Linked DNA regions of Homo sapiens: region 1 is linked to region 2. A link means that fine-mapping ties the variant in region 2 to the expression of a gene that starts in the linked region. Tissue or cell type: prefrontal cortex. Region 2 holds a variant in brackets; the other region holds the start of a gene. All regions are shown on one strand. Distances are from middle to middle.

Evidence for each region. PIP is the estimated chance that this variant, and not a neighbour inherited with it, causes the effect.
Region 1: STX16 starts here. The variant in region 2 is fine-mapped to the expression of STX16 in prefrontal cortex (ROSMAP, PIP 0.90).

The regions. Positions count from the first base shown.
Region 1 is chr20:58,646,435-58,656,756 of GRCh38, forward strand. STX16 (syntaxin 16) reads left to right here and starts at 4,849. Exons shown (of 9, transcript NM_001001433.3): 1 at 4,849-5,704. The coding sequence starts at 5,573. It overlaps STX16-NPEPL1 (STX16-NPEPL1 readthrough (NMD candidate)), which reads left to right and starts at 4,819. Exons shown (of 23, transcript NR_037945.1): 1 at 4,819-5,704. LOC107985410 (a long non-coding RNA gene) reads right to left here and starts at 3,201. Exons shown (of 3, transcript XR_005647058.2): 1 at 2,555-3,201. RefSeq lists silencers at 1,059-1,353, 3,752-4,111 and enhancers at 2,041-2,578, 5,608-5,877, 5,715-6,218.
Region 2 is chr20:58,672,398-58,682,719 of GRCh38, forward strand. STX16 (syntaxin 16) reads left to right here. Exons shown (of 9, transcript NM_001001433.3): 8 at 1,234-1,314; 9 at 3,790-7,129. The coding sequence ends at 3,894. STX16-NPEPL1 (STX16-NPEPL1 readthrough (NMD candidate)) reads left to right here. Exons shown (of 23, transcript NR_037945.1): 8 at 1,234-1,314. Among named protein-coding and RNA genes, the nearest start is that of NPEPL1, 15 kb to the right of the region's middle. RefSeq lists enhancers at 3,430-3,955, 3,956-4,480. The variant C/CAAA (reference allele first, on the strand shown) is at 6,242.

The sequences.
Region 1 (10,322 bases), 26 kb before region 2:
AGTCCTGGAAAGAAAAAAGCTCACCATTTAGGTGGGGCCTGTTGGGCAGGGCTTTGAATGCCCAGGGGGCACTCCGCCATGTGGAAAGTGTAGAAAACCTAAATGCAGAACTCCAGGAAATACTGATCTATGGGAAAAAAATTGTACTGAAATCCATGATTCTGGAATAAATCAGATCTAGTCTTATACTATATTCTAATACAGCCAAGTGGTGGCAGGGACTGAAGGTTTAAGAGAAAGCGAGAAGAGAAACACTTAAGATGGAGACTACTCCATTAATTAGCTTCATTTTTTTTTTTCTGACAACCAAGAAAAGTCCATCATTAGTTAATATTAGTGATGCCCAGCTTGGTTCAACTTAGAGCACCTGTTTTCTGCTGAGCGTCATTTGAGATCGGCTGGCATGGGCCAGAGGGAGCTGTTTCAGGGCCTCAATCAGGCAGTGACATGATCAGATTTATGCTTTGGAAAGGTCACTGTGGCTGCAGGATGAGGAGGGAAGAGACGGGTGGTTGTTAGCAGGCTGCTGGGAAAATGTACACGATGAGAACCAGAATTTGGGTAGAGACAGTGGAGATGCAAATTCCCTGAAGGCAAGAGTTTTGCTGTTTCATTCTTTCAGCAGTGCCTGGCAAGAGATAGGCACAGCCACTGGTAGATTTTTAGAAATGCCTACTGTATTGAATTGTCTGGTATTAAAAGCTACGGGACTCCAGACAAAACAAAAGTGTTGCCTCTCTCCAGAGTCTCCCTTCTTGGGAGAGGCATCATAGCTGAAGACAGACCCAGATAGGGAGTTTTCTGTTGTTGGAAATACTCAAGGTTTTGAGGAACTATTTGGGGACACAGAACACACAACTCCTGTTACCCGAACCTGGCCCGAATCTGTCTGTCAGATCTGTGCAGACGAGACATATGTTAGGCCTGGGGGCTTTTGCTGCTTGATAAGCAAACAACCATCTGTCTTTCTATAGGTGGGAGAAAGACCAATGTTAAAAGGTGTCTTTGAGATGGTTTAGCCCCCTCTTCCACATGAGTGTGCACTGCAGACACATCTGGATTCCCAAGGTCCAGAACAAGAAGCTCGGAAACGTGCTTAGATTTCCAAGTGTTCAGTTCTCAATACCATGCCATTCTCTTTGGAGTTTATGATGCCTTCCAGGGAGAGCAGAGCCCACGTGAGCTTTCCAACAGTAAGACTACTGCTGTAATAAATCATATTGCCCATTTGTGGCGCACTTACTCTATGCTGAGGTTGTATAAGGGCTTACATGAGCCCTATCTCATTTAAATTGTTTTCACCAAAGGGTGTGTGTCCCACTGCTGACCTGTTGAGCTAACCATCCCCTCTCAGTACTTGAAAACCTGCACCTGCCCAAGCCATGGCCTGGCTTCAATGGGGCTTCCTCCTGCACTGAATGAGATGACAAGAAAACAATGAAACACTTGTCCCCAAAAGTGACTTATTGGATTCGTTGGCAGAATGTTAGAAAGTGGGTATGAAGCCCAAGAAACAGGACACGGAGCCTCACCAAGCCCGAGGAGTATTACCGAATCCTAGCCCAGGCCAAGAATGAGTCACAATGAAAGCTTTTAAAATGTAAAACCATCAACCTAGATTTCAATTCCAAGGAAACACATACTTGGCCATGGGGGAATGCTTTAAAAAAAAAAAAAAATCAAGCTTAAGTCACTTGACAGGAAAATAAAACAGCCAAGGAACATTCAAATATAATGATTTACATCCTTCCCCAACTCCCTTCCAGTGTGGGTCAGGGCGAACATGGACCATGGACGTGACTGGAGCCAGGGGTGCATGCCCTCTCTGGGCTCCCTCTTGGTTAACACTATTTCAGGCACACAATCCCATACCTAAACACAGCCTGCTTAGAGCTGCACCGTGCTGCCTTTGGGGCCTGGTCAGAGCTGCACGGTGCTGCCTTTGGGGCCTGGTCAGAGCTGCACGGTGCTGCCTTTGGGGCCTGGTCAGAGCTGCACGGTGCTGCCTTTGGGGCCTGGTCAGAGCTGCACGGTGCTGCCTTTGGGGCCTGGTCAGAGCTGCACGGTGCTGCCTTTGGGGCCTGGTCAGAGCTGCACGGTGCTGCCTTTGGGGCCTGGTCAGAGCTGCACCGTGCTGCCTTTGGGGCCTGGTCAGAGCTGCACGGTGCTGCCTTTGGGGCCTGGTCAGAGCTGCACGGTGCTGCCTTTGGGCTGCTATGCCAACTTCTTGGATTTTCCTGACCTCCCCGCTGTTAGGCTCTTGGGTTGCTTGGGGTGGCTGTTTTGGGAATACCAGGATTTTTCTTCCATTATTTGTGTGCAAGCAGTGTTCATTTCGCTCAAAGAAATGGAAGCTTGATTGATCTCCTAAATGTAAGAATGAGATTGTCCTGTAATAAATATTTAAGACTGACCAGGAAAGGCGACCACCATCTGCTGAAACACAAGACCAGGAATTACTTTGCTAAGCTTCCTGAACGGAGGGAATGAATGAATAACCATCCTATATAATATTTGCTCAGCACCTGGTAGTTTACAAAGAGTTTTCACTTACCTTATTTGATCTTCACAATAACCCCAGAGAAGTAGACAGGGCGCGGATTACGAGGATTACGAAAAACCCACATTTTTTTCTTTTTTTCTTAACAGATAAGGGCTCTAAAGGCTTAAAGTCACTCGAGGGAGGTCAGAGAGTTTGGGGACTAAATCTCGAGTCTCTCATTAATTCATGCACATATTTAAAAAATATTTATCCGGAGCCTGTTCCAAGCCAGATGAGATGGCAGTGGGTACAAAGATGAATAAAACACTGTCCCTGCGTAGGAAGAAGATCACGTTCTAGCCTGGGGGAGAGCGCCAGGAAAAGTAAACAGGTCCCCCCCTGCTTTGTGAGGTGATGAGTGCTGGGGAGATAGGAAGAGAGTGGGGACCATGTTTCTAATCTGATTCTCCTACCGACGACCAGCTCAGTTGTTATTTACAAATACCTGTCCCCTAAAGGGGGGAGCGGGGTTGGGGGGGCTTGGCCGTGCTGCTGGGGTCAGAGCTCGCAGGGGGGTTCTGCCGCAGTGTGGGGACAAACTCTCCCTTATTGGGCAAATATTTCCCGGGGCGCTACGCTAAGCACACGGGCTCCCCGAATTTCCCTCCCCAGGGCCTCTCTGTCTTTGGATGGCCTGTCAGCAAGTCCCTGCAGCCTCCAGCCCGGCCCGCGCGGCGACCCAGTCCCCTGTCGCCCGAATCTTCCACCGCTGCGAAGCGTCCCCGGGCGAGCGCCCTGCTCTCCGCGCTGCGCGGAAGCCAGAGCCGGTCCTCACAGTGAACTCGCCCAGCCCTGCTCGCGGCTCTCTCGATTTTATGTGGGTTTCGTTGGATGCATTTTGTTATTTGCCTCAATGGATGTTTCACATTAATTTTTAGTTGCACAACGAACGCGCGGGAACATTCTCCGTGAGAGAAAAAGCACGGGTGGGGGGCGGTTACCGGTGCTTCCCCCGGTCGCCTGGGGGTCCCGCACGCGCCCCGCGGGTGCCGCTGTCTGGCTGGGGTCCCTGGGTGAGCCGCGGGCACCGGCTTCGCGTCTCCCCGGGCGCGACTCCGCTTTGCAAGCGCTCAGCACACGGGAAACCCTCGGAAAACACACACGTGTGTAAAGTTTGTTCCACGCAGAAACAAAGGACGCGTGGGGGCCGCTTCTGGGGCCTCGGTCCTTTGTTGGAACCCCGCACCGCAGCCCGGCCCGCAGCCTCGCCCCGCAAGGGGAAGCCGGCCCTGCACAGGCCCGGGGCCCGGAAGGCGCCGCCGCACAGCTCTGCGCCCCCGACCCGCTCCGGCCGCGCGCTGGGCCAGGCCCTTGGCCTCAAGCCTCCCGGGCGGCTCCGGGCCGGACCCGGGTCTCCGTCGCGGGACGCCAGCCTGTTTGTGGGTGCCGTGCTCGGGCCCGGGCGGCCCCTGCCCGACGCGGCCCCACGGAGCCCCTGCACGAACCCCGCCGACCTGGCCCGGGGCGGCAAGTCGAGGTGCTTAGGGCGCCCTGGGCCCGGCCAACCGTGGAAAACCCGGCCCGGGGCACGGGGGGGCGCGGGGGTCGCAGGGCCAGGGCCCAGGCAGGGAACAGAGATTTTTTTCGCGGGGAGGGGGGTGGGAGGTGTCAAAGTTTTCGGGGAACTTTTCCACTTGAGATTCCACGACCCTGCAGTGCCCCCTACAGAAAGCGGCAGCTGGGGAGGGCGGGCGCCCCCGACGACCCCCGACTGCCAGCGGCGGCGCGGCCAGGCTGCCTGGAGTTCTTGTTCCTTTTTTTTTTTTTTTTTTCCTTTTATTTCCTCGTGGTTGTTTGTCGGATACATCTTTTTCCAGAGTGGGAAAAAAAAAAAAAAAAGCGAGCGCCGCCGCCTGCAGTAGAGCGTGCTCGGCCTGCAGAGGCAGTCGTCTCCAACTTTTCCTCTCCCGCTCCAACTCCCCGCGCCCAAAACTTCAGTTCTTGGGGAGCCCAAATTTGCCTGCCGCGCAACTTCCACTCTAATTCAGCGACCAAGGGCCCTGGCAGCGGTTTGCAGCCTGGGGGCCACGCTCCCCAGGCTCAGGCCTGCTCGTTGGCCTGCTCCTAGTGCCTGGACCCAGTTGGGGGAGGCGAAACAGGGCGCCCGAGGAGCACCCCGGGAGAGGGCGGAGCACTCCCGTGCCCCGGGGCAGGAGTGCAGGGAGCTCCCGCGCCCGGAACGTTGCGAGCAAGGCTTGCGAGCGTCGCAGGGGGGCACTCGCGAGGGACGGACAGGAAGAGGGCCAGGGGGGAACGCCAGAACCCGGGACCACAGCACGGAAACGGTCCGGGGCTGAGCTGCAGTCAGATCCGGGGATGGAGGGAGCCGGAGAAGAGGAGTGAGAAGGCCGGGGAGGCAGGCCCTGCTGTCTTCCTGCAGGCCGGCAGCCTGCTGGCAGTGGAGGACCAGGCCGTCCAGGAAAGGAAGGGGTCAGGAGGTCGGGCAGGGCCTCAGCAGGTTCAGACAAGTCCCCAGAAGGGAGCTGCAGGCGCCCTCGAGTCCAGGCCCCAAGCCTGGCTCCGGTTGTCCAAAGAGGGCCTAGGCCAGGCCTCTGGTGCGGAAACTGAGTCACAGCCAGACCTCAGGGCACGGCCTAGACGCTTACGAGCCAAAGTTAGGGGTAGAGAGCAGAGACCTCCGGGGGGTCTCAGGGAGTAGGGGGCTTCAGGGCCTCCCAGTCTAGAGCCGGATTGGCGAGTTAGACGCTTGTAGATCCAAGGTTGGATTGGGGTGGGGTCTCTGGGACGTTGGATCGCTACGCAAGGATTGGGGGGATTCAAGTGCTTAGAGATCGAAGTCTGCCCTGGGTAGGGGGAGTCAGACAATTGGAAAGCCTAGGTAGTTATTTGGGGAGGGGTCTCTACGCCTTGGCGAAGCGCACAGCTGCATCTTTTTGGCTTGAGGCCTGAGGCCTTGTCGAGAAGCTTCCGTGAAAGGGTGGGCCAGCCGGGCCACGAGAAAGAAAGTGAATAAATCAGGAATATAAGTGGGCGGGGGGCCCCTGAGAGGGGGGTCGCAAAGGGTGAGACATGGCCACCAGGCGTTTAACCGACGCTTTCTTGTTGTTGCGGAATAATTCCATCCAAAACCGGCAGCTGTTAGCCGAGCAAGTGAGTAGTCACATCACCTCCAGCCCTCTGCATTCACGTAGCATTGCTGCGGTGAGTCTCCTGGCGGCCTCTCCGACACACGGACCGTGTGCACTGCGGCTCTGCCTGTTTGTCTGTCTCTGTCTGTCTCTCTGTTTAAAAAGAGAAGATAAGAATAATAAGACTAAGAATAATAAGATCTCTTGGCTAGAGTCAGGGGGCATCTGTAGCCCTGGATGAGGAAGAAGCGGTGCTGTGAGGCCGCAGCTCCACCTCTGCCCGGTCTTCTCCTCACTTCCGCAGCACCCCCCCCCCCGCACCCCCCGCCTTGGCGTCACTGCGCTACAGGCCGCCTGTAATTTACATATGTTTTAACGCTAACATTGGGAAGCATTGGGCCTTTCTGAAGCCTTTTTGTTTCGTTTTGTTTGAAGCTCCCCTCCCCCCAGTAATGAGCCTCAGTTTGGTCCTAAGGGCTGGGTCGCCGGATCGTAGACCCAAATCCTTGCAAAATGAACGACTCCCTCCCCTCAAAGAGGAGGGAGTTGTGTTGTTGTTTTGTTTTGTTTTGTTTTTCCGCCCGTTTTCTTTTAACGGCCCCGCAGCCCTCTGTGTGGCCTTGTTCCCTGTGAATAATTGCCTCACTGTTCTTCCTGGGGGCTTGCGTTTGTGAGACTCAAGGTGCTAGCCTCTTCACTTTCCATTTCCCAGACAGGAAATTAAGCTTTCCTCTCCATTCGAACTTTTTAAAAAAAGCCTGAGGAGGTATATGTGAAAATTAACCCCGTAAAATAGCACTTTTTTTTTTTAATTAACCACAACCTTTAGTTAGCCTAGCAGTAGCGTTTTTTAAGGGTGGTCCTGGAAAAATTACTGTTTGGGGTTTGTTTTTAATGGGGGCTACTTTTCCCTTTCTGAGCCTCAGTTTACTGCTCTGTTAAATAAGGGGCGAGTCTGGATGATCTATACCAGACAGTGATCGTTAGCTCTGTAATGTCTTCAATTGAAAAGTGAAGTTATGAAACTGGCTGTAGTTCAGGCTACCTGCTGTAGGCAGACTAGGTTGGAATAGAAGCAGCGTTGGAACAGGCGGGAAATAGCCATCCCAGGACCACATTCTTGGGGGTTATACTTGATATTAGGCAATTTTGGAACATTCATTTCACCTCTTAGGGACTGTATTGCCAGTTTATTTTTTTCTTTATGGCTTTATCTAAATGCTTCAGGAAAATTTTGCCATATGTCATGATTATCATGTCTACAAAGACAGTTTCTCCTTTTTGTAAGTCACAGGTGGAGAATGTCTTTGGCCATATAACTGATAGAAAAGTCATTTTAAGCCGTGTGAGCGGTTTCAGGAATAAAAGCATGTAAACTCAGGTCAAACAGCCTAGAACTAGGGACAGAGTGTGTGTGAGATTTCAGTTAATTAAGAAGTTGAAGGGTTTTTTTTACATTTATAAACGGAAAGGAATTACATTATATTGAAATAAATGTAAAGATGTCTGGTAGCATAGAAACAGGCTAATTCTAGCGCTAATTTTGAAGAAGAAATAATCCAAGAAATCGAGTAGAAATTGGATGAATTCAATTCCTTAATGGAACTTCAGTAATGTTAAATAAGAACTGCATGTTCCTTAAATGACTTGATTTTGTGCTGCCTCAAAAACTACTGAAACTCATATTAAGATTTCTAAGGTATCAGTTTTAATTGAAAAACATATTGTTTATTTTTCAATTTTTAATCATTAAGGTTCAAAATACCCTGAACCTTTGGGTAACATGAGGGTTTTTTTTTTTTTCCCGATTAAGTCAGACAGTTTAAAAACCTAGTATCTGAGACGGGAAGCTTTTTAAAAGTGCATCTCTGAATCAGACCACTTTAGAAAATTATTTTCTAAGTTAGGCAATTTTAAAAAATATTTAAGCTAAGCAGAATAATTAAAAATGGATAGTTAACGTATACAGTTTGGAAAAATAGATATGTCAGGGTATATACAGATACATTTAGCTAACTCACAGTTTTTTGAAAATAGATTTCTAAACCCAACTAAAAATACATTTCTAAGAACGTTAAAAAATGTTTTCTAAATGTCATACCATTGAAAATGTTAATATTTATATTAGTCTGACCATTTAAAATCTTTCTCAGATCATTGAAAGCAGTCATATCATTTAAAATATCCTTATAGTCAATCCATACTATCTCAAAAATAGGTTTTGCAGTCTAACAAACATAGTTTGCCTGAATTCAAATTTAAAAATAAAACACAGATTTATATATTTTAATTGTGTTAAAAAATGGCATGTCATAAATTTCTGAAGTATTTAGGGTTGAAGTGTTACATCTTCACTTTGCTTACAGGTGATTCGTAACAAAATCTATTCTGCACACAGTACGGCGAAATGCTAACAAGACTAAATAGAGGTTATGATTTTTTCAACTTTTCTGGAAGTTGGAAAAGCTTTATAAACATTTTGAAGCAAAAGCCATGTTTAACACAATTTGTAAAATCTATTGAGTAACTCTTAGCAATGCTTTTCACTGCATATCTAGCTCACAAAAAATTTAAAGCCTTGTTTCTGACTTGTAAATTTCAAAGCCATGTAGCAAACCAAACAAAATCGTATCTGTCAAATTTTGAATATGGACTAGGTATTAGGTGACATTAAGGAATTAATTATAATACATTACATTTGCTAATTTTATTAGAGATGCCTACTGAAATGTTTAGTGGTGAAATGTCAAGGCATCTTACCTAAGTCCTTAAACCCCTCCAAAAATAGAGGAAGCAAATAAGGCAAATTGTTACTCATTGTTAAGTCTAGTGATGAGTATGTGTGCGACATTTTACCATTTTGTAGGCTTTTCTGCATGTTTGAAAATTTTTAAATAGAAACTTAAAGTAAGTATATTTGTTATAGTAAAGTAAAACAGTTAAAAAGAGGCAATTTGTAAATACATGTCTAACACTCAGGCAATTTGAAAGGAAGAAATTAAACCTAAGTTTAACTTAATTTAAAAAATAATAACCTGGAATTTTAAGTTTCCAATTAGAAGAAAAAGCTGTAGACTTTGATCTTGATGCATTTGATACCAACTAAAAATACACCTAAAATAACAGACTTTTTAAAAAAAAAATTGTAATCCTGAATTTTGACATCTTATTTCAGGAAAAAGCTGCAGAAATTAATTGCAGAGTAGTGTGTATCATACACCTCAAAGCAAAGCACACCTAAAGCCATGCCATTCAAAAAATTTAAACATGCATTTTTTGCATCCTAGTTTGAGGGAAAAAACTAGAATTTGGTTGTTGTAGTGGGGTTATTGTGTGTCCCTGTGCGTGCATACAGGGTTTTGCAGCATTCAGGCAAATATGTCAAATAAACAGGAATTTAAGGAGGATACGCAGTGACCAGATAAACACAAAGCCTCAAGGGCCAGAAGGAACCTAAAGGTCATTTGGCCTAATGTCCCCATTTGTGATAACCCCTCATGCCTATCTTATTTGGCCATGGTGTATGACAATGATGGAAAATGCCAGCAGCTCCATGATTTTTACCACTAAAAAGTCTTTGCCTGTTAATCCCAACTATTTGTGTCCTGGGGTCCTGCTTTTAGTTCTGTTCCTTCGGGTCTTCCTTCTGTCTGGTAACCCTGCAGCCTTGTTACCCAGAATTCTTTCCAGGCCTAGCATTCCCGGCTCAGAGTGGTTATGCTTTTTTCCTATAAATGATGTTTAGTTTTTCTGTATCCTTTTTAGATTTCAGCATCCAGAACTGAGCAAAATTCTACTTTTTTGTGTTCTTAGTTGTATTAAAGTTAGTAAAACTAATTGTAAAAAAACAGACAGGTTTGACTTTATGCACTCCTAACAAAATACAGTCGTATTTCCCATGCATTTTACTTTGGCCTCAGTTTTGAGTGCCCCATCACGTTCATGCCTCAGGGCAGCATGAAATAAAGGAAAGAGCACTGAGAATTGAATCTGAGAATTGAGGCCTAAGTCCTGTTCTGCTGCAGGCTCAGAGTGTGTCCTTAGGCAAGCCTTTAATCTTTTCGGACATTTTTTGCCTCATTTGTAAACTGAGGGGTTTGGGTTAGGTGATTTCCAGCAGCCCTATCGATTCAACAGTATTTTCTCAAGTTCTGTTTTAATACATTGTTTCTCCTGACTTTAGCTTTAATTTGAAAAGGAGAAATTCATAGTCAACAGTGTTGTAGCTGTCAGTCCAAGGTTACTGACAGAAATCCTTAGAAGTAGCCCCAGTACTGTGCAAAAGTAACTTTCACATTATTATGCCAGCCAAGTGCAGGTTTTAAGGTAGCAACTCATTCAAGCAGCTTGGCTTTAGGAAACTGAAATGGATTTATGAAGCTAAACAATTATTCAAAACAAATTGTAAAGTCATAAAGAAATGAATGAAAGGTAGATATTGAGATGCTCTTCTGATCTGATGAAATTCTGTATGGATTTGTGTGGTTTCCTTCGATCTCCGGGAATGGATCTAATATAGGGGTTGGAGCTACTTTGTTAGTGTTTACTGCCTAATCTATACTCTGCTTTAAAATAATGCATAATCTATAATTGGAAGCTAGCGTTAATTGGTCTTAGATTAGTTTGAAACATAAGCACATTATTTTTAATAAAATGTGTGCTTTAGGAAAAAGGAAATTAAGGATTAACTA
Region 2 (10,322 bases):
ATATGAAACATAAAGGTATAAGAAACATTAATGAATTTTGTGTTTAGACTTGGGTCCCATCCAGAATATCTCATTATGTGTATGCAAATATTCCAAAATCTAAAAAAAAAATCCCAAATCCAAAACACTTCTAGTCTCAAGCTTTTCAGATAAGGGATACTCAGCCTGTATATGTGTGTATTTACAAATTATATACATAGGCTACTGTCATTCCCTATAAGAATATTAATAAATCTTTTTTTGATAAATGAAGTTCTAATATTCTCTTCCCATGCCTCGAGGGTACTCATGTGAGCACCCTACTCTAGAGACCTAGTTGACTCTGACCGAGCTCAGCAATGATTCTGACGCTATAGAAGATTTCCCTTCTAATTTTGGCAGGTTATTGTGTAATGGCAATTGGAACCACTAGCGTTCAAGTAGAATTAAATTGTTGTTCACCGTTAAAATCTGATTAGGGCATTTTATTATCTTGCCAGCAGGGATTTGGGTCCTGATCCCCCTGAAACCAACTGCAGAATGGAGTGTTCAGGCTCTGGAAGATCCAGTTACATTAATTACTCCAGTGGTTCCCAGTGAACTGCTATCTCTTCTAATCCAGCATGTTTCCAATAAAAGCTCTGTTCTTCCTCATAGCCCAGTGTCCCCGTCTTCCAATTTAATTGTTTAAGAGATTAAACAATTAAACATCTTCCCCTTGAGTCCAAATTTTTAATTTTAGGTGGTAGACTGGAGTTTACCATTTCCTGCTCTGACCCATAGAGATGTGGATCCACGTTTATAGACGTGATAGTCAATTTGCAGGTCTACTTATGACAGGGGCGAGCTTACCTGGTGTTCTCTGCTTACTTGAATCCAAGTACGTAGGCAGCAAATGGGCGCAGAGCTTCTGTGCTGCTCAGAGCCTCTGTCCACTGGACCATAGATTTCTTAGGGCCCCAGGAAGTCCGAATATGGCATTTCTATGGCAGCTGAAACCAATAAGGAAACCTCAGTCTGTCAGTACTTCTTTCTCGTGAGCTAGATGTGATGGCACTAACCAGCATTCTGCCATCGAGCTCCTGACACTGCTTGAGGGTGAACTCCAGAGCCCTCCGTGTGTACCTGCAGCACACAGGGAAGGAAAACATCATCTTATGGATGATGATGTCTGTAATTTGCATATCTCATTTTTGACGTTCAGTTTTCCCAGTTGCTATTGTTGATTGTCTGTAACTGTCATTTATTACCTAGGGTACAGTCCTTGACAGAATTGACTATAACGTTGAACAGTCCTGTATCAAAACTGAAGATGGTTTGAAACAGCTTCACAAGGTAATATGTCTTTCAAGACTTGGGAATCTTAGGAACTATTTTCAAATAATCAAGAATTGGTAAGAGGGTTCTTTTCCACCATAACGATCTTCAGCATTCTTGTGTTGTCCACTCTCAATACAGTAGTGTAAAAAGGGATTCATCATTTCATTTAAAGCCAATTGTGGGGGCTGTTGCCGTTTTATTGCAGTTAATGATTCCAGGTGTATCTCACACTTAAATCCAAAATTGCTAAGAACTCCTTTTTGTGACAGTAAATTCTAAAGAGATTGGAGTTCTTTCTTTTAGAAAATATTTCATTCTTTTCTAATGCTTCTTGTTTTAGGAAATCAATTGGGCATTTGCTAAAATATGTGTTGAAAATCTGTCTGCTTGTTGCCGTTGACTTGGGCCTCTCTTGTGATACATTCCTGATGAATTGCTGATGGAGAATCATTCTGCAGAAGATAAAAATCTAATCTTCTCTTTAATTACCACAGCATATCTGTATTACCTTGAGAAAAGAGAAGTTTGTTGAAGTGAGAGTAGTAATTCTTTTATTCTGTGCTAATAAGGTAGCTGTTTCAGGGATGTTTTTATGATATTCTCTTTTAAAAAAATAGATGGAAAGCATCTTAGGAATCTTATCGGTTATAAGAAACATGCATAAACGGCTGAGACTCTCATATATAATTGGTTACGTATTTTCTTTAAAAGGAATATAACAATACTTCACAAATTAAATAATATCCATTTCCTTGTATCTTTGAGACCCAGTGGAGTTTCTAGCCATATAATGAGTGTTTTGCCAATTCACTGTTGGACTACTCTACCATTTTTCTGAAATCAGTCGCTTCCTATACCAGAGATCGCCCCATTTAATAGCAGTATTGGGTTTACAAAAAGTCAGCCCTTGCACTAGTCTAACCAGAAGCCCTGAGCTGTCTTTTCAGGGGGCTTGTTGCCATGTGTAGGTGGATATGAGACTCCAGCCTGTGGTGGGAAGAGAAGTCTGACCTTGTCTATGCAGGGTTTTTTTAAGCATTTAGATTAATTTGGTTGCCAAGCCCTGTCTATTAAAAGTGAAAACTAACTTAAGTTTCTCACTCTGTAATACCCAGGTTTTGATGTGCTGCTGAATTATGCATTGGTTTTGAAGTTTCTTAAATAAAAACTAGTGAAATATGTTTTGTAATATAACACAGATAAAAGGAAAAGCTTTCTCTGCGGGAGTGAGCAAATCTAGTGGGAACTAAAAATTTTGTTTTAGGTTCTACTTTATAAATCATTTTGAGAGGTTTTACAGTATATTATTTAGTATTGGCTTCCCTGGTGTTCTGGGTTACTTATTAGAAAAGTCAGCGTGCTCCATCTTCCCTCCAGCCACAAGGCTGTAGGCAGCACGCGCGTGCTCGGCAGTCGGCTAGTCTAAGGGTGATTGAGCGTCGGGAGCTGCTCCCCATGACCGGACTCTCGGTGCTGTCCCCGTGCCTGATGTTTCCTCCTGGTGGATGAGGGGCTCCTCCAGGTGGGCGGGCAGGCTCACTTAGGAAACAAGCCCACCGCGGGGGATGGAGCAGGAGAGATTGCCATTCTCGCCAGGGCTGCCTTCCCGCTGTCTCCTCCTCCCTCCTGTGCCATAGCAAGGTCTGGAAGAGGCAGCGCATGCTCTCCCTGGACGTGCCTCCCGGCGCCCTCTGAACTCTGCTGTCCTCTGGCTCTCCTTTCTCAGTGCTCTGCGTCTTTCGCCAGCCAGGTGGGGCCCTTTGGCATTTCTCTAGCAGGCATGATGGAGTTCCCGCTCCTGCCGAGCTTCCAGGATGCGGTGTTAAGGTGAAGAGATGTGCAGGGTGCAGCCTCGTCCCCAGATTGAGCTTGGAGGGCTCCTTTGCTGTATCGTTAGCGGCACTGGGAGGACGCGCCTCAGAGGGATCTTTCTGCATATGACATCCATGGGGCACACGTGTCTGTTTTTATTTCAAAGGATGAGTTTTTGTTTCCAAATTTAGGGGAGGTCGAAATGGGGCCTCTTCCGGGTGTCTGTTGCCTACCTGCCAGGTACGGTCCTCCAGCCCGTTGTTTCCTTCCGCGGTGAAGGAACTGTGCATTCGCTCCAGGAACACGGACCGGGAACAGGCGACCCGTGCTGCAGGGGCACTTGCCACGGCCTGCAGGAGGAAAAGCCGGGAGAAGCAGGCCCAGCTGCACCCGGAAGCATGAGCTTTCACTTCCCTGTCAGGCTTTGTCTTAGTAGTAGGTTTCCAACAAATCCATTTCCACGTCCAGGGTAAATAAGCAGCACCAGGATCATGGGGCTCTTCCACTCCTGGTGATTGAATTCCGTGGGATTGATTGGAGGGATTACAATCATGTAGCCTGTAGCAGAGACCTCAGTCACTGTGCAGAGAGATCTGGAAGCCTCATTCTGGAAACGAGTGGGACTTGATTTGGGATTTTGGGGAAAATGACGGCCTTTTTTCCCTCCTCTTTTTGTAGGCAGAACAGTATCAAAAGAAGAATCGGAAGATGCTTGTGATTTTAATATTATTTGTCATCATCATTGTGCTCATTGTTGTCCTCGTTGGCGTGAAGTCTCGATAAGTGGCATTGGGTTTTCGTGTGTGCCGCGCGTGTGGATCTCCCGGGTGTGAGGGGCTTGGCCTGCGCCCCGCCAGCTGCCCGCAGAGGTGCAGCCTCGAGGAATCTGAGGGCGTCGGGGCAGCGAACCTTTGCATCCACGGACTCCTCCTTCCCTAGTCCTGCTCAAGCGGTCCGGGGAATGGGTTTTTGTTTTTCCTTCATTGTTGAGAATTTAAGGACCTTTGATACTGCTGCACAATAGAGATTGAGTTCTGGGATCAGTTATAATATATATTTTTTTTAGAAAGAGAAAATGAGCTGAGAGTTTACAGGCACTGCAGAAGCTGTTCAGTATTATATGTGTATATGCTATTTTTTTAGCAGCCATGTCTGAGCAGAATGTTAACATAATTTTTGGAAAAATTTTCTTTAAACCATCTGGTTTTTAAGAAATTTGGTACCAAAAATTGATGAGTAGAGGCAAAAATGCCCCTTCATCTTTCTCTATATATTTTCCAGTTGAAAACAAACTAAGAAGTCCTTTAAGAATTTATAATCCGTTCCCCATTAACTTAATTTAGCTTTTCCATCACTGTTAATGATCAGAGTAACAAAGTGTGAAAAATAAGAAACCATCATTGATGTTAATTAACACATTTAGATGGGCCAGTTAAAACAGCTTCATAAGTTTTAAATTAATTGTAAATGGAATATTCCTCATTTAAAATTTTTGCACTGCATTTTCTACTGTAAACCAAAAGAGGTTACTAAGCAAAACCACCTAAATTTAAGTTGGTGATTTAAATGAATCTCACATTAAAAGAAAGCTTGACAGTGTTATGAAAGCCACCAGACTCAGCCAGTGTGTCCCCATGGGTATCCCCAGCCATCCTTGCTCAATCCATTACTTATATACTAACTACATAATGACCTGTTCAAACCAGACTCTATTTAATGAACTGTGAATTTACACAGAGGCCATTTTAAATGGGTCACCCCATTTAGGATTAGTGGATCTCAAATTATTAACCAAACATCACTCCATTTCAAAGTAAAATATTCCACCAGCGATTTGATTTATTGGCTCTTCCATTGCCACTGAGCAATGCCCAGGAAGCAGGCACATTGCCAAGGACTGGGGGCATCTTGACTAGGAAGCTCCTCGTTTGTGTGAGCGTGGGTCAGACCGCCAAAGTAGGACTTCATCGTTTACCTACCTATTATCAATATGGTGCTTGAATATATTCCTATAACTGTAGAACAGTGTGGAAAGTGATGGTAACTTTGAAGTTGTTCATGTTTTATTGGCTTTGTTTTAATTGACACTAGTAGAGTTTTAATGGTCTTTGTGTAAATTTTAATGGCTTTTCCATTGTTTTTGCTTCTCTTAAAAAGTTTAAGAAGAATATGACCTCATTAAATGTGCTGTTTTATTTGGACCAGTCACACAAAATGTCTCTCTAGAGTTGACTTTAAAGTTGTTTACAGAAATTTAAACTCAATTCCAGAGATTGAAGTTGTCCAAACAGCTCATGGGCTTAGTGTCCAAACCCCTGCCCAGCCTTCCCTTTCCAAGTTGGTGCCACCTCCAGGTAGCCATTGGTGGTTTTCCTATTACTGATGTGGCTGTGGAATGATAAGGTCCTAGAGGGGCCCTGGCATTTCAGGAAGCGGACCTGGTATTCCCTGACAAACATTGCTTAGGAAAGAGGGCCGGAGAATAAGAAGCCAGCACCTCATCAGTCAGCCCTGCAATGTGAGACTTCCGTAGCTGTTGAGAGTCACTGCAGGTGTTCTTTCATCCCATCTGATTTTAACCCATGGTTGAGACGTTCCAAGTTAGATCTGCTGCTCTTAGGTGTGGGGCTGTCCACATTAGGGAACTTGCCTCAAAAACAGTCCACAGTGGCAATACCGGACTTCTGTTCAAGCTTTTTAAAGTGCTGAGCCTTACAAACCCCTGAAGGAAAGTGACCCTTTAAGAGAGGATCATCTTTTTTTATATTTATTTTCACCAAATAGGGTGATGAGGGTTGGTTTTTGTTCCCTCAACCCATTTGGGTAAAATAACGGATCTGATTAGAAACTGTTTTAAGGAGGGGCTGGGCTCGGTGGCTCACGCCTGTAATCCCAGACTTTGAGAGGCCAAGGCGGTCACGAGGTCAGGAGTTCGAGACCAGCCTAGCCAACATGGTGAAACCCCGTCTCTACAAAAAATACAAAAATTAGCCGGGTGGGACACGCCTGTAATCCCAGCTACTCAAGAGGCTGAGGCAGGAGAATAGCTTGAACCCGGGAGGCAGAGGTTGCAGTGAGCCGAGATCACACCACTGCACTCCAGCCTGGGTGACAGAGCGAGGCTCCGTCT[C/CAAA]AAAAAAAAAAAAAAAAAATTGTTTTAGCGCTGGGTTTCCCAAGGTGGGAGAGACAGACCCAGCCTGGAGCTGGCCCCTGGCCTGTGTGCTGACTTCTTGGGGTCCTCAAACCACTGTATTTTTCTGTTGAGCCTGTACTTGGGGAGAGATCAGTAGCATTTGAGGAAGTAAGAGAAAAGAATCATGGTACCTCAGGGTTTCTTTCCCTTTACTCGCTGGCAGCCATTGTCTGTGGGCACCTCATGTTTTTCCACACTCTACTGGGCCGTGGAGGTAACGATCACCCAGGCCAGTCTCCTCTGCCTGGGATGCGCCCTCTGAGAGGAGGCCTAGCAGGGCAGGCTCCCTCTGGGCATCCCTGGATGCAGCCTCTGGACACATGCCTCCTTTAAAGTGTCCGGGTGCAGCTCAGGTTGAGTGGAGGTAGAAGGAGAAACAGACATGTTTACCACGCGTTTTCCAAAGCTCCTGATCTTTCCCAAGATTGTAACTGAAAACTGCTGTCTCTTGTTTTGTTCGTTTTGGGGGTGGTGGTGCTGGCTGGGCCATGCTTGTGAAGTGATGTGTGTCTCTGATTTAACGGATTCACTGTTTTCTCTGCTAATTGAGAGAGCGTTATTTACATTATTTATTTGTTTTGACACAAGTGCTTTCAGTGTTTTATCCTAGCTAATGGCTTCTTAAAGGTAATAAAACCCTTCCAACGTAATTGGTCAGATAAAACTTTTTTTCTTGTATGCTTAAATAAAGCAATTAGTGAAGCACTTCTATCCAAAATGACTTTTTTGTCCTTTTTTAAAACCAATTTACTGTTACTGGAAACTTTTTGTACAATAAAGCAATCACGCAGATTAAAGAACATCCTGCAATCCTAGTATTAATTTTAACAATGGGTTCATGTTTTCTTCCAGTGCATTTGTGTTAGGGGAGGGCTTGGCCAGTTTTGTGATCCTCTGGGCCCCTGACTCTGTTTTGTGCCTGAGGCCTTTGCCTCAGTGTCCGAAAGTAGATCTATCTAATGGATGCTTTCAAAGGGACAATCTATTTACTATCTGATATACAAAAAGAACAACTGCCTAAAAGGCAGATAAGTATTTTTCTTATGAAAATATATGCTTTATATACATACCAAGAAACATTTGGAAATCTCCAAATAAAACTGTGATGTGCCTTGTTGAGAAGCAATTCTTACACACAGGCTGTAAGAGACTTGACTTTCTAAATGATTTTGTTTCCTACTCTGTTACACCAAAAACTTGAGAGACAAGTGTCTGCCAGTTTAACTCAAAGCCAAGACTATGTTTCCCCTTGATTGTGCCTGTCCTGGGGTCCTCCGAGGAGGACCTTTGTCCTGAAACTTGACTTTGATGCATTTGTTTTGCTGGTGGGAGATGTGGACCTGAGTGATGGTAGGGGTATGTGGTTTCATCACCAGAACCTATACAAACAAAAAATAGCAGCTGTCATGCCAGGTCTCTTTGGCACCCTTGGCGTTTGGTCCTGAGGTGTTGCGGCGACTCAACAGCAGAACCCTTCAGAGCCTGTCAACAAACCACACAAAAGAAACAACCTCCTCCTCTTGCACTCTCACCGTGTTTTTTGTTAAGAAATTACATTTCCCCAACTCGCATGTTGGCCACTGGCTCTGTCCAAGAATCAAATCCACTCTCGAGGGAGAGACGTTTGCCATAGGGTTCAAGAATATTCTGACCGGCAATGCTATTTAATAACATTGAAGAAATCCTCCATCCCGAAGGGGACCACATAAAGGCGGCAACACCTCTTTGGTGACCTCTTGGGTTATGTTCTCAGCTGAGTCTTTGGTGGCCCAGTCTTGAACCAGCACTACAAGAGTATGCAGACGCAGTCTGCAGAAGCATTGCTGTCAGTGGAGAGCTGCAGGATGCCACCAATGACTTGGAGGCATGACTTGCCAAGAGGCCTGGAAGTGGGGAGCCACTGGGGTGTCCCTTTGAATGCTCACTTTGACAGCAGGTAAACAGGCTGGATATGGATTTCCTCTGTGAAATTTAGCAACCATCCTATAAGAAGTCTGATCCTGATCCAACGTTTGAGCAATCTAGAATCCTTCCTGGTCCGTCTGCCATAGTTACGTAGCCACAACAAAATTTACCTAGCCTAGCACCATTTCTATCTAAATCTAATAGGATAGCATGTCATTCTACATGGGGCCTTAATTGTGATCAGCATCCCTTACTCTAGTCAAGCCATGTGGGACCATGTGGAGAGATCTTTTCACAGAAGGGATGTCCCTAGTTGGGTGTAGAGAAGACAGCTCATCACAAAGACTTCCTGCTTCTCTGTGGTTCTAATTCATCGATTAGTTATGGTAAGTTTCCATTCCTTCTAAGATTTAGGTAGGCAGGCCTGGTTCATCCAACATGAACTACATTTCAGAACCTAGCACTGTGCATGCACATAAATGCATGCCTAGAATTGTATATCTTGGCGTATATTAGCTCTTAAAAACTAATTTTCTTGGCCGGGTGCAGTGGCTCATGCCTATAATCCCAGCACTTTGGGAGGCCAAGGCAGGTGGATCGCTTGAGGTCAGGAGTTTGAGACCAGCCTGGCCAACATAGTGAAACCCCGTCTCTACTAAAATATAAAAATTAGCTGGGTGTGGTGGCACACGCCTGTAAACCCAGCTACCAGGGAGGCTGAGGCAGGAGAATTGCTTGAACCCAGGAGGCAGAGGTTGCAGTAAGCCGAGATTGTGCCACTGCACTCTAGCCTGGGCAACAGAGCGAGACTCCGTCTAAAAAAAAAAAAAAGCCGGGCGTGGTGGCTCACACCTGTAATCCCAGCACTTTGGGAGGCCGAGGCAGGCAGATCACGAGGTCAGGAGATCAAGCCATCCTGGCTAATGCGGTGAAATCCCATCTCTACTAAAAATACAAAAAATTAGCAGGCCGTTATGGCAGGCACCTGTAGTCCCAGCTGCTCGGGAGGCTGAGGCAGGAGAATGGCGTGAACCCTGGAGGCGGAGCTTGCAGTGAGCCAAGATTGCACCACTGCACTCCAGCCTGGGCAACAGAGCAAGACTCCGTCTCAAAAAAAAAAAAAACACTAATTTTCTTGACCACCCAGATGCCACTTCTAACCTTGCTGCCTGATGGTTTTAATTCTGTTTTGAAAACAACCTCCTCCCAAGTGATGGGTATTAGAAGGAACTAATGAGAACCCTGGGTGCAAGCAGAGACTTTTAGCACGTATGAAAGTGCTTCTGATTTAGGACTCGGAGTTAGATGGTGGGTGTCAGCTGCGTGTGTCTTGTCCCCAACTCCATGCCACCCTCGGGCAGACGTCATGGTACCAGTCTATGGCCAGGCTTTCTTACTACACAAAGAGACATTCCATGGAGTCAAATGGCAGAGACTTGTGTACAATTATCTGGTCAGTTGAGGCAAAAGAAAATAATCATTTGTCCAATTGTCCAAATTAGCTCTGTGGATTGTCCTGAATGCTCGGGGTAACTGTGTGGTTCTCCACTTCAGTTCCGTAACCTGGCTAAGATGGACCATTTAAATGAGGCTCCATTCAACACAATGCACATTTAAATGAGGCTCAGTTGCAAGAGACCACTGGGCTTAGCGTTTTCAATTTGTCAACTATAATTCTATAATTGCTTTTAGCTAATCATCCAAATGATTACATGTTGTAATGGAGGCAGAAGACCCTCGTATGCATCATTTGGTCTCTTTTTCTCAGAGGAAGTGCTGAAGGATCAAATGTTTTGTGTGTCTCTGTGTGTGTGTGTGTGTGTGTGTGTCCGTGTTTTAACTTGGTGTTCTGACGCACAACACCATAATAGACCTCCATTTTCATCAACGGTGGGGGAATGAGAACAACGCCCCCCATCCCAACATCCCCCTTTTCCAGAGGGGGAAACTGAGACCCAAGTTTCCCTCTTGCCAAGGCCACAGGACTAGAACTAGAATCGTCAGTTTTCTGATTTCCAGATCAGGACTATTTCTGCTTATGCCATTTTAATTTTTCATTTCTTTCCATAAAATTAAATGACCTTCTTCAAGAAAGATTTAATGGTCAAGATGCGAT